Linked DNA regions of Homo sapiens: region 1 is linked to region 2. The links come from fine-mapping of genetic effects on gene expression. A gene starts in region 2. The other region holds a variant in brackets. All regions are shown on one strand. Distances are between the middles of the regions. Region 1 overlaps PPP3CA (protein phosphatase 3 catalytic subunit alpha). Region 2 holds the start of PPP3CA (protein phosphatase 3 catalytic subunit alpha).

Region 1 (3,021 bases), 320 kb before region 2:
CCACTGCTTTATCAGCAATTTTTGTAATAAGGTTAGGGTCTAAACTTCCACTATATAAGTATATGAGTCTTTCTATGTTATTAAGATTAGTTTATACTTCCCTAATGAAATCTTAAAATGCAAAACTTCTCTGTAACTCCAAAATGTTTAATATTAAAATTCTACCCCTTGACTTTAATTTGCATTTTTCTTATAATTCAAGATTTTAAAACTACAGCAACTGCAAAATGTGCACTATAACTTACTTACGGTGGATTCGAGATTCCTTATGATAAAAATGGAGAATGGTTATCACCATGGAGAGAGAGAGTACATAGCAAAGTTGTAAGTAGTCTACCCTTTTAGACAAATTGAAGGGCATCAGGCAATACATTTTGGAGTCGTATCAATGTATGTGGTTTAAAATATATAGTAAGTTTTCAAACCCATATAGAAAGGTTCCAACCCATATGTCTTTTATGTGTATGTGTGTTTGTGTGTAGGTTGAACCATAGAAAAACACAAACCAATGGATTTAAAATAAAATAAAACCAAATAACCTAAGTAAAAACACAAGTGAAAATCTGGAAATGAAACAAAGAACTGGAAAAACTTAAGTAACGTAAGTTTAAAAGTAAAGCAAAACATCCAGAATCACACCAGCACTGACATATTAGAACTATGTACTGCCCACTATTAAATGTTCTAAAGCGAATGTTAAATGAACACTATTAAATGTGTTCTAAAGCCCACAGTTTCTGATAATACACTTGCTGTGCCTTAAAATGTGCTTATCAGAAACTAGATTTCAGTCAGTTAGGTAGATGGTACATTTTGGACATGTAAATGATCCATTTATGCTAATGTTTTAGTAAGATATTTAATTTGGTAGAAAAACTTTTGTGTGTGTTTTTTTTTTAAAGTTGTTAAAATAATTCCTAGCTGTAAATTTAAAGGGGACGTTTACTTCTCAATACTATGTATCTTCCTACCTTCATTTAAAAATTTTTGTCTTTTTGTAAAAACTCAAAAGACACTGATTCGGAATATATTCATCTGAAAATAAAGACAATTAATGTGATGCAGCCATGATGTGATCATTCAGCAATACTATATTCATGAAGTTGATCATTACTCTTCATGTAGAAGTTTATTGAATAATATAAATGAGAATAGTGAGTCTTCTAGGTTGAAGGGCAGGGACAGAAAAGAAAATACAAAAAAGATTCAAAGAAAGATACAGGAAAATAAGCAAGAGGCCGAGAATGTTTTGAAAAATGTTATAGCATATTTTCATTTTAATTTTTTTCTGTTAAAGCCTCATCTAATAGCAATCTCCTATTGTTAAAATTGTATTGTATGTAATAATAATAGTAGTTAAAATTGATAACAAATGTAACAAAAGTGAAAGAATATATAGGACTGTGCTGCTAACATGGTAGCCACTAGCCTCCTGGCTTATTTTAATTAAATTTAATATAAATTAGATAAAAGAAAACGTTTAGTTTCTTGGTTATATTCCCTATATGCTCAACAGTCA[T/C]ATGCGGCTTCTGTATAGATACAGAAATTTCCACCATCACAAAGAGCTCTGCTGGACGGCACAGGTCTAAGGTCTAGAAAGCTACACATTTTAACACAAAATCTGTATTATAAAGGAAATGTTACTCTTTTTTCAAAAATAAAATGTGGTTCTATTCAGTCTCTTGTTTTCAATTGATAAATCAGAGAAAAGACACAAATGGCTTCCAATTTCCATTCAAGAGGATAATGAAATCATCTCCTGAAAATCTAGACATACAGGTATATTTTAGTGGTTATGTGTGTATGTGTTATCTCATAAATGAAACATAACCAGAATACTTATTAAAAATGTGATTAAAAAGTTGTTTTTGACAACGGAGTGGCTCAAAGTAGTCAAACCTATTGTGCATGTAGGCAACCTAAATGAGTTGTCCTGTAGCTAGGCTGAATATGTAGATTAACATGTGAATGAGGGAATGGGGGAAAGGTGGAGTAAAGACCACATTCCAGAGAATGAGGGAGCTATTATGTTGGACATGACTGATCAAACTGATTGGGGTTTCAGCCCTTCTGCCAGCTGAGAAGAAGAACCGAAGACCAAGACAGAGCTTAAATGAATGAATAAATCAGGGCTCTAATGACACAGCTGACTGCGATGCCCCAGCACACAGTCATACCCATCAGCCTGCTTACCGCTTTGCAGGGTTTGCTTCCCTCCAGAAAGTACTCCGCTGGGGAGCATGCCAGTTGGGGTCAAGCCTTTCAGCGTCAGCACACTCTCACTCTCTTCTCTGGAAGGCACAATGAGGGGCGACATTAACTTTTAATTTCTTTTGTGAAAAAGAAAGAAATGACTGAAAGGAAAAAAAATGCATATAAGCACCCACATTTCCCTCTATCTTGGCTCTCCGGATCTTTTTTTAAAATTTTTTTTAACATACTTTATTTTAATTTATTTATATACCAGTAATGTTCCATAAACGATTGCTACCATAAAGTTTACATTATCCAATTAGGGAGGTTCTGTTTCTTTTGAGTATCGAAGCTAGATAGATAAAGAAAACCATTTTGATTTTGTAATCAGGCATCTCAATACAAAGTGTTTGTTGTGCATTCTGTATGTTAAAAGTGAGCCATAGAGAATGCTGATGTTAAGTTTTTCAGCCAAGGCTCAGCAAAAATAAGGGGAAGTGATTTGATTTGACGGAATAAAAAAACAGAGCATATGGAGATTGAAAAAAAATCTGATTTGTGGATTAGGGAATCAGGAATTACATTCAGTGGACTTTGAGAAATTAAGGCATTTAGTAATTTAGATGTTACATGAAAAACACATAAAATAATGGCAAGCAGCCAATAAACCTACTGGTAAAATTTCCCAGATTTTTTTTTTCAGTCACTTTCCCCACTGATTTGCTAATATAAAATTATTTTCTTACTCAGCATGACAATTGTTTTACAATCAATCAGTTTTAAGTACATCATTATTTTAATTATATTTATTAATTACTTGACACTATT
Region 2 (2,500 bases):
CCGGGCGCCCCCTCCCACCACCGCCACCCCCGCCGCCACCTCCCCGCGGCTCAGCCATTTGCCAACTGACGCCCCCGTCAATAAAAATGCCCCAAGTGAGGCTGGGTGGGACGCGTGGGGGAAGGGCGCCGCGGGGGCGGGGGGTTCGCGGGGTTCGCGGGTTGCACAATATCCTAGAAGGTCCGCGGCTGGAGCGGACAGAGGAGAACCTGGGGCGGGGGAGGGGAGGAAAGGCGAGGCGAGGCAAGCTGCCCTGGCGCCTGCGGCACACGGTGCACCCAGGCCACCGCGGCGCTCCGCTTACCTTTCACCACCCTGTCGGTCGTCGACAACTTGGGATCAATTGCCTTGGGCTCGGACATCTCCAGCTGCCGGAGGACAGCGACGCGCTGCTCGTCCGTCCGACTGCACACCCCGACCGGACCGGCGGGCCAGACACTCAACGCCGCCGCCGCCGCCGCCGCCGCCGCGCTGCAAACCGCTCGGCTGGAGGTCTAGGCTCTGAGCTGGCTTTAAAGTTGCTGCCTTTTCCGCGCGTCCCTCCTCCGCCGCCGCCGCCTTCACTCCTCCTCCGCCGCTGCCGCCAGCCCCGCCGACTCGCTCCGGGCTGCGCGTGTGTGGTGGTTATTTATTTATTTTCTGAGCACGCCTCCCGGTTCTTCTTTTATTCTTGGGGGAAGGGGGATGGGGAGGAGAAGCGCACACACGAGCACCCACCCCGGCACGGAGACCCAGCACCGCGGAATGGAGCCCCACGCGCGCACACACGGCCAGGATTAAGACCGATCACATGGGGAAGGCCGGGGGCGAGGGAGGAGAGGCAGGGCCGCCGATGTCAGTGCCACCAGCCGCACCTTGGCGTCCCCGGCGGCGGAGAGGCGGCCGCCGCTGCTGCCGCTGCTGCTGCCGCTGCCGCTGTTGCTGCTGCCGCTGCCCCTGCTTCTCCACACAGAGCGCCGCCGCTGGTGCCGCGGCCGCCGGAGACGTCCCGCCGCCGCGATCGCCCGCGCTCGCCTCTGCCTCCCCGCGCCGCTCCTCCACTCACCAAGGCACAGCCGCCGAGCTCGGCAGACACAGTCCCGGGCACAACCTACCCCCCTCCGCCGCCGCCGCCGCCGCCAACACCGCGCCCGCCTCCGCCTCCTCCCCTTCCTCCTCCCGGCCCCCGCCTCTTGCGCGCCTGCAGCCTCCTCCTCCCCACTGAGCCCGCCCCCGACCTCCCGCCCCGACGCCGGAGTTCCTCGCGTTCATTGGCTAGAGGGCGCATCACTCAGTGCCAGGTGGCGGCCTCCCCGCTTGTCCCGCCTCCCGCTCCTCCTCATTGTCCCCGCCCCTTGCTCTGTTTTCTTCCAGCTGCCGGACCAGCGGGCCTGCCGCCTCTACGGACCAGTCCCTGCTCAGGTGTCACTTTTGCTGGCAGGCCGAGATTAGGGCAGGAGAGTGGGCAAGGCGTCGCGGCCAGGAGGAGAAGGGCTCTACCACGCCACCCTCCTTTGGCCTCCGAACGCGGACCCCGCACACACACACCCGCGCCTCTTTGGCAAGCGTGCCTTGTCGGCTGGGTTAAGCCGCAGTGTGAGTAGCCAAGTGCAGAGGGTGTCTCCGGGTGTGTGCGTGGCCCACAAGAGGGCAAGAAGAGAGAAGGCGGGGATAGGAGGGAAGAGGGTGGGGGTGAGAGGCAGCCCTGAGAGGGCGGAGGAAGGAAGAGGCTGGGAGCTCGGCGCCCGCGGCGCAGCTGCCGTCGCTGCCGCAGCTGTCCAGGGAGGATCGCCAAAACGGCGACGAATAAACAACTTACCTTGCGGAGAAGAGCTACGACTGCGATGCGGTGTACGGTTGTTTTTGCTTTTGCGTTGGCGGCTTAGGGGCTGTTACTGTGTCCCACCCAGGCGTGCACACCGAGCGGCGGGGCGCTGTGGAACGCGGGAGCGGACTAGCGGAGGAGGATGCGGACCAAGCCCCAGCGACCCAGGGCAACTCGGAGCTACCTCGGGCAGCCCTGCGGGTCTCCGAGGAGAACCGAGGAGACGGGAGAAACATGGGAGAGGGTGGCCTTTTCCCTGTTCACACACACATGCACGCAGCCACTGGCCGGGACAGTTGACACCCATCTTCCTTCCCTGCTCCTTCCAGTCATTCTACACCCGCTTGGTGCTGCCAGTGCGGGCAGGGCCTTGGAGCCCAAAGCGGATCCCCACACTTGTCCCTACGGTCGGAAGGAAAGTAGAGGAGAGAAAGTCAGGCGCGGCAGGGCTAAGAGCAATAGTGGCCCAAATGTTCCTGGCCCGCCTGCTGCGCCACAGAGTCTGAAAAGCGGGTCTCCGTCTACCAGAAGGTGACCTCCACACAGCCCCTCTCCCCGACCAACTGCAGCACCCAAGGACTGGCAACGTGGTTGGAGCTTTTGGGGGGAATTATGAAGAAATCTGAATAAATTTCTCACCCTTCATGTTTCCTGTTTTATTTCCAAAGTCCTTCAGTATCAGGTTTTTCCTATTTC

Evidence for each region.
Region 1: its variant is fine-mapped to the expression of PPP3CA in whole blood (INTERVAL, PIP 0.93).

What each region holds. Positions count from the first base shown.
Region 1 is chr4:101,030,074-101,033,094 of GRCh38, forward strand. It overlaps PPP3CA (protein phosphatase 3 catalytic subunit alpha), which reads right to left. Exons shown (of 14, transcript NM_000944.5): 12 at 2,194-2,291. Among named protein-coding and RNA genes, the nearest start is that of LINC01218, 150 kb to the left of the region's middle. RefSeq lists an enhancer at 1,653-2,187 and a silencer at 1,899-2,193. The variant T/C (reference allele first, on the strand shown) is at 1,520.
Region 2 is chr4:101,346,435-101,348,934 of GRCh38, forward strand. PPP3CA (protein phosphatase 3 catalytic subunit alpha) reads right to left here and starts at 1,092. Exons shown (of 14, transcript NM_000944.5): 1 at 305-1,092. The coding sequence starts at 362. PPP3CA-DT (PPP3CA divergent transcript) reads left to right here and starts at 1,343. Exons shown (of 2, transcript NR_033874.1): 1 at 1,343-1,575; 2 at 1,890-2,449. RefSeq lists silencers at 1-247, 718-1,327.